Regions from separate parts of the Homo sapiens genome. Here region 1 is linked to region 2. The links come from fine-mapping of genetic effects on gene expression. A gene starts in region 2. The other region holds a variant in brackets. All regions are shown on one strand. Distances are between the middles of the regions.

Region 1 (5,369 bases), 28 kb after region 2:
AGAAGTAAAAATAAGGAAAAATTGAGCTCTTCTTCCTGGATCATGTGTTGCCCTTTAAAGGAAGGATGGCACATGCCCTGGAAGAGTGGTACACCATTCAGTACAGAAGAGCAGAGGGTCAAAGGGGACCCTTTCCTGCATCTGTCGAGTAGTCCTGCAGGTGAGGATTTTGGTTGTCGTTGGTTTCACATGTCCAGGTGGAACCAGATGAATTACCTAATTTCTCCTGGCACTGGCTTCTGGGAAGTGGCCCAGATGGTCGAAGCCTGACCATTGGCAGAGTGCTAGCTTTGCTGGGCCGTGCCTCTGAACTGGGATCTGCTAGGAGCAGCCATTTGCCTTCTCCGTCTTGTAGCAGGTTCCATGTGAACAGACGAAAAGGGCATCAAATCTAATGTTCTAGAAAAAATAAGAGCCATCATTGGCTTATTTATGTTCCATAATATTATGGGGCCTGGCATTTTAATAATAATTATGCTCTGGGCCCGGCGCGGTGGCTCACACCTGTAATCCCAGCACTTTGGGAGGCCAGGCGGGCGGATCACGAGGTCAGGAGTTCAAGACCAGCCTGGCCAACGTGGTGAAACCCTGTTTGTACTAAAAATACCAGCTGGGCGTGGTGGTGCGCGCCTGTAATCCCAGCTACTGGGGAGGCTGAGGCAGGAGAATTGCTTAACCGGGAATTGGGAGGTGGAGGTTGCAGTGAGCCAAGATCACGCCACTGCTCTCCAGCCTGGGATACAGAGCGAGACTTCATCTCAAAAAAAAAATAATAATAATAATAATTATTATTATTATTATGCTCTGGATTTACTACTTAGTTGCTTTTTACTTGAGGAAGTGAAAGCTTTTTCATGACCTGTTATCTCATTGATTCTTAATTGTCTCTGAAGTCGTTAAAGTTTAATAGAGTCTATTATTCCCATTTTATAGGCAAAGAAATGGAGGTAACATGATTTGCTTTAAGTTGCAAATGAGTTGGTCCCTGAACTGGGATTTGAATTGGGTTCTTCTTCTTCTTCTTTTTTTGAGACGGAGTCTCTTGCTCTGTCGCGCCCAGTCTGGAGTGCAATGGCGCAGTCTTGGCTCATGCACTCTGCCTCCTGGGTTCGAGCGATTCTTCTGCCTCAGCCTCTCAAGTAGCTGGGACTACAGGCACCTGCCACCACGCCCTGCTAATTTTTTGTATTTTTTAGTAGAGACAGGGTTTCACCGTGTTGGTCAGGCTGGTCTCGAACTCCTGACCTCAGGTGATTCACCCTCCTTGGCCTTCCAAAGTGCTGAGATTACAGGCGTAAGCCACCACACCCGGCCCAGGTTTTCCTTCTTAAGTTTCACTTCACTGAGACCTTTAGGGGGAAAAAATCCACACATCTTTTTCTTTTTTCTTTTCTTTTTTTTTTTTGGAAGCGGAAGGACTTAAAGATACCAGATCATTGTGCTTTTCTGATGACTAGGTAGTGGATGATAGTTAACATTTATTGAGTGTTTATCTGCAGGAATCTGTGCTAGGTGCTGCATAGACATTACCTCATTTATTCCTCACAACAACATTCAAGGTAGAACTTATCATCCCCAGTTTTACGGATGACAAGGTTTTGTGAGGTCCTAGGTCAAGGGAGTGATAGTGAGTGACAAAGCCTTGACTGAAAGCAGGGCTGGGTTCAATCCTGGGCTTTCTGATTCCAGAGTGTGTGCTCCTCCTAACCCGTGTGCTAACGGGCCTTAGGGATGACTAATGGGCAGGCCTGAGAGCCCTGACGCCTGCTGCTGCCACCACCCCAGGTCTGATGGGAGGTGGGGTTGGACGGGCTTTATGTTCTATTGCAGTACAATTTTCACATTCTGGTCTTTTCCTTTGCTAGAAGCATTCATCTAGCCAGGTGGGGGGTCATTACTTTAGAAAAAATAATCAGAGCTGAGAAAACGTCTGCATTTGCAGAGAATGAAGTATTTAATAAGACCAGATGGGCCGGGCGCAGTGGCTCATGCCTGTAATACCAACACTTTGGGAGGTTGAGGTGGGCAGATTGCTTGAGCCCAGTAGTTTGAGAGCAGACTGGGCAACATAGCTAAACCCCATCTCTACAAAAAGTACAAAAATTAGCTGGGCGTGGTGGTGTGTACCTGTGGTCCCAGCTACTCTGGAGGCTGAGGTGGGAGGATTGCCTGCGCTCAGGAGGCCGAGGTTGCAGTGAGCTGAGATCACACCACTGCACTCCAGCACTCCAGCCTGGGTGACAGAGCAAGACTCTGTCTCAAAAAAAAAAAAAAAAAAAAAAAGACTAGATGGGGAGATGAGGGACAGAGAGAATCAAAGAGAATCAAAGTGGTTTGTGGACAGAGGAAATGAGTGATACTCTGACCCAGAGGCCATCTTTAGTGTCCAGGCCATTTTGCTTGAGCTGCTGGTGAAACTGTGAAACTGGAGGCATGGCACTTGGGCTAAAGTCTGTGCGGTGAATAAGGCCCTCAGTTTCTGCTTTAGGTGGCAGAGCTGAAAATCTGATTCCTTTTTGGTCTTTAGCTTC[C/T]GGTGTACTTCAATGCAGTACATTGTGGGCGTGGTGGGGATGTGGTTCAGAAATTTACCTAAACTCTGTGGACTTCCCCCTCTCTCCAGCCACGCACTCTGTCATCTTTGGTTCCAGTCTTTAGAATTCAGCTCGGATCCCCTGGGTGATGGGTGGTGTCAGACACTCAGGTGCTTGGATTGCCCCGGTGGAGAGAACAGCATCCTGCCCCCATGGGCTTCAGTTGTACGTGACTTGCTGTTTTCTTGGAGGTGGGCTTTAGTCATCTCTAGCTATAAAGACACAAAAAAACTGGGAAGAATGACCAGGAAACTGTCACCCCAAGCCTTGCAGTTGATTGCATTTTTTTTTTTTTTTCTGAGATGGAGTCTTGCTCTGTGGGCCAGGCTGGAGTGCAGTGGCACGACCTCGGCTCACTGCAAGCTCCGCCTCCCGGGTTCACACCATTCTCCTGCCTCAGCCTCCCGAGTAGCTGGGACTACAGGCACCTGCCACCATGCCCGGCTAATTTTCTGTATTTTTTTTTTAGTAGAGACAAGGTTTCACCGTGTTAGCCAGGATGGTCTCGATCTCCTGACCTTGTGATCCACTGGCCTCGGCCTCCCAAAGTGTTGGGATTACAGGTGTGAGCCACTGTGCCCAGCCTTTTTTTTTTTTTTTTTTTTTTTAAATTGAGACAGCATCTCACTCTGCCACCTAGGCTGGAGTGCAGTGGTGCGATCATGGTTCACTGCAACCTTGACTGCCTGAGTAGTTGAGACTACAGGCGTGCACCACCAAGCCTGGCTAATTTTTAAAATTTTTTGTAGAGATGGGGTTTTGCCACATTGTCCAGGCTGGTCTAGAGCTCCTGGGCTCGAACAATTTGCCTGCCTCAGCCTCTCAAAGTGCTGGGATTACAGGTGTGAGCCACCATGCCTGGCCCCATTGACTTTTTCTCATTGGTGAGTTCAACAGAGGAGAGATGATTGCCGCAGTTTTAAAAAAGAAAAGAGGCCAGGTGTGGTGGGTCATGCCTGTAATCCCAGCCCTTTGAGAGGCCGAGGTGGGCAGATCACCTGAGGTGAGGAGTTCCAGACCAGCCTGGCCAACATGGTGAAACTCTGTCTCTACAAAAAAAATACAAAAAATAGCCAGGTGTGGGTGTTGCACACTTGTATTCCCAGCTACTCAGGAGGATGAGGTAGGTGGATCATTTGAGCCTGGGAGGCCAAGGCTGCAGTGAGCGGAGATCGCACCACTGCATTCCAGCCTTGGTGATAGAGCAAGACCCTACTGTCCCAAAAAAAAAAAAAAAAAAAAAAAAAAAAATTAAAGAAAAGGCTGGGTGCAATGTCTCACGTCTGTAATCCCAGCACTTTGAGAGGCTGGGCCAAGGTAGGAGTATTGCTTGAGGCCAGGAGTTTGAGACCAGCCTGCGCAACATAGTGAGACCCTGTCTCTACAAAAATTTTAAAAATTAGCCGGGCATGGTGGTGTACACCTATAGTCGCAGCTGCTCAGAAGGCTGAGGTGGGAGGATCACTTGAGGCCAGGAGTTTGAGGCTGCAGTGAGCTATAATCACACCACTGCATTCCAGTCTGGGTGACAGAGTGAGACCCTGTCTCTTAAAAGAAAAAGGGAGGACAGAAATCAGATTAAAGAAGAGAGAAGAAGTGAGACTGTTGGCTTATACCTTGATGAAAGGTGGAAGCGGAAGGGCAAGAGCTTCTGCTAAGTAGTGAGGACCTTGGCAAGGACAACAGTATCTTTTTCGTGTTCTGTTAGGCCGTGTCTCTCTAGCGCCCAGCTCAGAGTGCATGTGTGTTATGTGTGAGGGAATCTAGTGAGGAGTCTTCCTGCATTAGGCACGTCTGCAGGTGTCTGTTGAATTGTATATCTGTTGAAGGATTCAGTCTGGTTAACTCTGGCAGGAGATTCGGTCTGGTTAACTCTGGCAGGAGAGGGATGGACAGCACAGCCTTGTGGTTAACTAGTGGCTTTTATTGACTTTTCCTGTGTAAAGGCGAAATAAACCTTAGTGGGTCCCAGGCTTCTCTTCTCTCCTGCCCATGCTTCTTTTTTTTTCTTTTTTTTTTTTGAGACAGAGTCTTACTCTGTGGCCCCGGCTGGAGTGGCCCCAGCTGGAGTGGCATGATCTCGGCTCACTGCAGCCTTGACCTCCTGGGCCAGGCCATCCCCCAACCTCAGCCTCCTGAGTAGCTGGGACTACAGGCCCACACCACCACACCCGACTAATTTTTAAATTTTGTGGAGAGACAAGCTCTCTCTGTGTTGCCCAGTCTGGTCTTGAACTGCTGGGCTCAGGTGATCCCTGCAAAGTGCTGGGATTACAGGCACCCCACTGCACCCAGCCCTCTGTCTCTTTTCTGTTGCCAGTTGAAGTCTGGAGGTAGCATGGGTCCCGGGAGGCCAGTGCCAGTGTTGGAAGCCAAGAGAGGAGGAGCAGCTTGGTCAGGGGGAAGATGCAGAGTGCTCACTCCTGGCACCTGGAGCCCCCAGGGGAATGGCAGCTACCCTTTAGCGTGGACTGTCCCCAGCCCACAGAAAGTCAGCTTACAGAGGTTCTAGCCATATTCCTCCCTCCTCCACCAACAAAGCTCCTTGTTGTGGCTGAGAATTGTCAGGCTGTGATGGGACAGGGACAGGGGTGGGAGAGCAGCACCTGGCGCTGATGAGCACAGCAGCGATGGCAGCATCAGAGATGCTTAGAGACTGTTGGCCATGCCACACTGTCCTGAGTGCCCACGTGTCTTAACGCGCTCAGTCCTCACCACAGCGGACAGACGGGGTGCTGTTATGATCCCTGCTTTTCACACTAGGAAGTGGGGCACAGA
Region 2 (5,369 bases):
CTTCTCTCAAGGAAGAAGAAAGCAGCATTAGGTTTCATTTCATCTTGGAGAACCATCAGCGAGATCACACAGCCTTATTGCCAACCTTTGACAGTTCTATTACTCTAGTTGCTTTTCCTGAGAGGTCTCCCCTACCCCACCCATCAAAGCCTAACCCTCTCTGACAAGTTTTTCAATTTACCCAATCATCCCATCAGCAGTAAATGCTGAGATTAAAACGTGAGGATCAGAGGGACAGGGCAGCTTTTCTATAGCAGGACTGAGGCTGAGGCCATCAGCAGGGTCAGTATCAAGTGAGCTCCAAGCTCCGGCATCCCTGGCTTAACCCAGGGCCTTGGAAAGCTCACCCCTTTCTCTTATTTTCTCTCCCTATTCTTACTTATTGAGGATTTTAAAATAGTAAAGGAGATACTGCGTTTTTCTGAGTAAATCAAAATAATCAACCAAAAAGCTACAAAGAACTAACCCTAGTTTCCCAAAGAGTTTGTGAGCTAAATAATTTAAATGCTATATACCAGGTGAGGGCACAACAGATGTGTGGAGGGCAGTGGAGTGGGACCGTGCAGGTCCTGTGGGGAACGGGGCTGGGTGAGTTGGATATCCCCATTGGAGAGGATTGGAAAGTCTTTAAAATGTTAATACCCTTGGACTCAATATTCCACTTCTGGGACTCACCTGGAAGGAAATTATTCACACATAGGAGCAAGATTTATGAAGAAAAAATTTTATTGCCATTATTTACAATCAATAAAAGTTGGAAATATTCAATAAAAGGGAAATTATGAGATATTCATATGATAAAAATATTGTATGACATTTAAATTAATGTTTTTTAAAAATCCTCAAAGGAGGAAGAATTTCCCACAAAGTTATTTTTAACAAAAAGCAGGATGCACTTGTGTGTCTGTGTGTGTGTGTGTGTGGTTTTATCTCAACTTAGTTTAAAGCTAGAAAGCTAGAAAAAAGACTGGAAAGAAATATGAATATTACTAATGGCTTTCTCTAGGTGATGAGATTATGAATGCTTTTCTTCCTTTATGTTTCTATATTTTTCAGTTTTTCTAAAATAAACGTTTTCGCCTAGTGCAGTGGCTCATGCCTGTTATCCCAGCACTTTGGGAGGCTGATGAGGGCAGATCGCTTGAGCTCAGGAGTTTGAGACCAGCCTGGGCCATGTGGCAAAACCCCATCTCCACAAAAATTAGCTGGGTATGGTGGTGCATGCCTGTAGTCCCAGCTATGCAGGAGGCTGAGGCAGGAGAATCGCTTGAACTTGGGAGGCAGAGGTTGCAGTGAGCTGAAATTGCACCACTGCCCTCCAGCCTGGGCAATAGAGCAAGATCCTGACTCAAAAAAAAAAAAAAAACTCCAGCGTCAAAAATAAAATAAAATGAGAAGTAGGAGAAATTATTAGAGATTCTGGACCTTTTAGGGCATTTTTCCCTAATATCCACTCAGGCCGTGCCCAGATGGCCTTGCACCTTCAGCTGTGGCATCAAACAAAACTGGGAATTGCAGCTTTACCACTTATCTCGCTGCATAAGCTTCCACAAGCAAGTTACTTACTGTTTGTGCTTTTAGGTTCTTAATATGTAAAACAATGTTTTACATTAAAAATTAAATGAAATAGCTCCTGAAAAGCCCAGTCACATTGTCAGAGCTCAGTAAAAATGTGTTCCCTTATTCTAGTACTGGGGCAGAACACCTGCAGGTTTGTAGGTGGGGAGACAGTGGACAGAGTGGCTGGGTGATGAAGTGGGGCTCTAGAGGATGAGCAGAGATTGCCTCTGAGCCGACACCCTGGCCCTGTCAGTTCCCGTCCTCACATGATGGACATGAAGGGAACACGAATGAAGCAGATGATGATACGGTTAAGTAAATACCACCTGGGACCAGAGAGAGCCCTTCTCAAGGAGTCGCCAGCCCAGAGTCGGCCCTCTTCTGAGCTGGCCGGCTGGAGTCAATCTGCTTTGGACAACACAGCTTCAGATGGAGATAATACTGAGGCCAATGATCCTTGAAGACAAAATAATCTCTGGGCTTCTTTCTGCTCTGATTATAATGTTGCAATTATACTGAGCAGATGCTGATAGGAATTTGGTCAAATCCATCCCGTCTTCCATCTAACTTATTTTAGTGCCTGGTGGATTTCTGTCCAGCTCCACGGGCTGTGGCAATGCCGGGGCTGGCTGGAAGTGTGGAAGGGGCTGGCTGGAAGTGTGGAAGAGGCTGCCCGGGCTCCGGCATCAAGAGGTTTTCTCCGGTGGGGAGGAGTGCGCGATCTGATCCTTGGAGCGCTTGCAACTGTAGCCCTCCCCCAGGGCTCTGCGCTGATCTCCAGGGTCATCATCATAGTAACAGTAAGAACTTCATTTTATAGCATTTTTCAATCTGTAAGACAACGTCGTGTCCTTTATACCGTTGAAATTTCAATTTCACGACTACTCAGATGTTACGCGACTTGCTCAGTATCCAACACTTGGTTCCTTCACTGGCTCCCGGAGACCTGGGTGCTGAAGCCACTGCAAGGAGGTGTGTGCTCGAACACACAGCGAACACCGACTGCGTGGTTAGCAGGATTCGCTGGGGAAGAGGCCTCAGGAGAGTGCTGGAATTTCCAACCTTCGAGGTGCTAGTAACGTGTGTCGAGGAAGGGGTTGGAGAAGGGGAGAAAATGAAAAGAAGGGGAGAAAATGAAAAGATGGGGAGGAGGAGAAATGGTTTGGGTTTGGTTTTGGCTTGAGCCTCACCCAAGCGTCCCACGCCGCAGCTCCGCGGCCTCCTGGGGGCGCCCGCTCGCGTTGCCACGGCGCTCGCGCGGAGCCGCAGCCCGCCCAGCCAGCAGCGCGCGCTCCTGCAGCCCCGGCGGAGTCCCGGCGGGGAGCGCCCGCGTAGGCAGGCACCCGGGGCAGCCCTCCGTCCTCGCCGCGCGGCCTGAGAACCCCTGGGCCCTGGGCGAGGGGGCTGGGCTGTGCAGCCCCCGAGGCTAACTGGGCGGGATCGCAGCTGCAGGGGTTGTGCGAGCAGCCACGGCGGCACCTGTGCCCTGCGGGCACCCACCCTGCCCCTGCCGAGGCAGGCGCCCACCGCCGGCGGTGATGCGGCTGTGAAGCCCTAGTCGGTGAGTACCCTCCAGTCCCCCTGTGGGCGAGCGAATCTAAATGACAAGGTTATGTGTTTTGCTGGATGTCTTCTAAGAATCATTTATTTAGATTGCTTATGGTGGGGAAGCGTTTCCTTTGTGACATCTTTGTGTTTCTCGGATCTATTTCGTTTCCCTCTAAACGCAGCCCTCTCTCCCCTAGTGGGAAAGACACCCAGTATCCGTGTCTCGATCATCGCACGACACCCACCAGTGCGGATGCCACGTACCACACACTCCCCAGAGCCTGCCAGAGAGCAGGGCTGTCTCCCAGCCACGTCCACCCCATTTTCATTGTGCTTCTATCCCGCAGGCAAAGGAAGAGCGTACCCAGGCACCCCCGAGGTAGGCCAGGTGTCAGGACAGCCAGCAGGCCCTTGGCGAAGCCGGGTCCGCTCTGGCTAGCTCAGCGCGGTGAACCCATGAGCTCATTAGGAGCAGCGGCTGCTTTGCGCGGGGAACGCCGGTTTCCCTGCGGCAGAGGGGCCCTGCACCCGCCCGCGGCGCGCGGTGGTGGCCCAGGACCAGTGGCGCACACGCTTGCGCTCCCAGGCTGCAGGGCGCGCTGCGCCGGCGCAGCTCCCGGGCGTGTGCAACAAAAGGACGGCCAAGTTCATTCCCTCCTGGAAGCAGAGGGCGGGGCCGCATGACTTCTGGAGGCTGCATGTGTCTTAGAATCAAATGGTTATGACTCCATAGCAAAATGCTTTCTGTGTGTCAAGTCCTCTCCGTGCCTGCCAACCCCTTCCCTCCTCTCTCCTCCCTAAAATGCTTTCTTATTGGTCTGGCACTGTGATCAACTATTTAGAATTTTCATTGTAAAGAAATGAAAAAAGGGTGAAACCGAGACAAGCTGTAGGCTGAAAGGCTGGGCCCTGTGGTGCTATTCATTAGCTCTCAGGCCTGGCTGCTGGGGAGATTTTTAGAAATCCTGCTACCTGGGTCCAATCCCTGGAGATTCTGACTTAATTGGTCTGGGATATGGCCCAAACACTGGGATTTTTTAAATTTTCTTTTTGTGGGGAGGAGTGGTGGTGGGAAAATTTGGAGTGCATACTGGATTTTTTTTTTTTAACTTCCCAGGTGATTCTAATGAGCTAAGATGGCCACCCACCATTCTAATCAATCAGGGTGACATTTTTCCAGGTGAACTTGGTAATAGTTCAGTCTCTCAGGCTGCCGTTGGAGGGCAGGGTATGCAACTGTCATAAATGCCTACAAGCTACAGGCAAAGAGAGCTGGCAGGGCCTTGGGCTGCTCCAAGAAGCTCAGGATGAAGGCAGTGTCTCAAACGAGGGAGGGATCATCACTCTCGGAACAGGTCCCTTCACTAAATGAAGTGTTCTGATCTATATTCCAGGGCAAGGGGAAAGCAGATGCATACCTTTGCAAGTCTGTAGCATGAAAGCTGTGGCTCCCTGTACATTTGTGGACTTCATGGCTGCCTATGTACTAACCAGAGTCACATGTGTATATCCCCCCACCACCCACTCACTACAAGGAGAATGGACACTTAGAAAGCAGAAGAGGGGGCTGGGCGCAGAGGCTCAGGCCTGTAATCCCAGCACTTTGGGAGCCCGAGGTAGGCAGATCACTTGGGGCCAGGAGTTGGAGACCAGCCTGGCCAACATAGTGAAACTCAGTCTCTACTAAAAATACAAAAATTAACCAGGTGTGGTGGTGCATGCCTGTAGTCCCAGCTACTCGGGAGGCTGAGGCATGAGAATAGCTTGAGCCAGGGAGGTGGAGGTTGCAGTGAGCCAAGATCACACCACTGCACTCCAGCCTGGGTGACAGAGTAAGACTCTGTCTCAAAAGAAAAAAAAAAGGGTGGGGGTGCAGGTCGGAATGCAGTAGTCACTCTGGAGAAGGAAGAGGCAACAAATAAGATCACCTAGAAATTATAAAGTGTTATTATCCTTCTCAGGCCTAAAATCCTTCCACATGGCGAGTCCCTCGTAAGCCTATGGGAAATCCTAGAAACTTCCTCTCCCTGAAAATTGGAGTCCCAGGGTAAAATCTTCCCCACAGGTACTGTTGCAGACTGGGGGTGGGCGGCAAAAAGTTTCCTCTAACCCTTGCCTTCTAAAGTTACCATGAATGTTCATAAACACCAAGGCAGGTGGAGGCAGACACTCCACAGCGAGTTCACAATGACTAAGGGGCTCAAGGAAATTAGATAAGGTCTTAAAACTGGGGGTCTGAAATGTTAAAATTTTACATAAAC

The links. PIP is the estimated chance that this variant, and not a neighbour inherited with it, causes the effect.
Region 1: its variant is fine-mapped to the expression of MICAL3 in whole blood (TOPMed, PIP 0.99).

Annotation. Positions count from the first base shown.
Region 1 is chr22:17,993,965-17,999,333 of GRCh38, reverse strand. All of the region lies in intron 1 of MICAL3 (microtubule associated monooxygenase, calponin and LIM domain containing 3), which reads left to right. Among named protein-coding and RNA genes, the nearest start is that of MIR648, 16 kb to the right of the region's middle. RefSeq lists enhancers at 2,694-2,893, 4,485-4,985, 4,986-5,369. The variant C/T (reference allele first, on the strand shown) is at 2,532.
Region 2 is chr22:18,022,033-18,027,401 of GRCh38, reverse strand. MICAL3 (microtubule associated monooxygenase, calponin and LIM domain containing 3) reads left to right here and starts at 2,841. Exons shown (of 32, transcript NM_015241.3): 1 at 2,841-3,121. RefSeq lists a silencer at 2,704-3,113.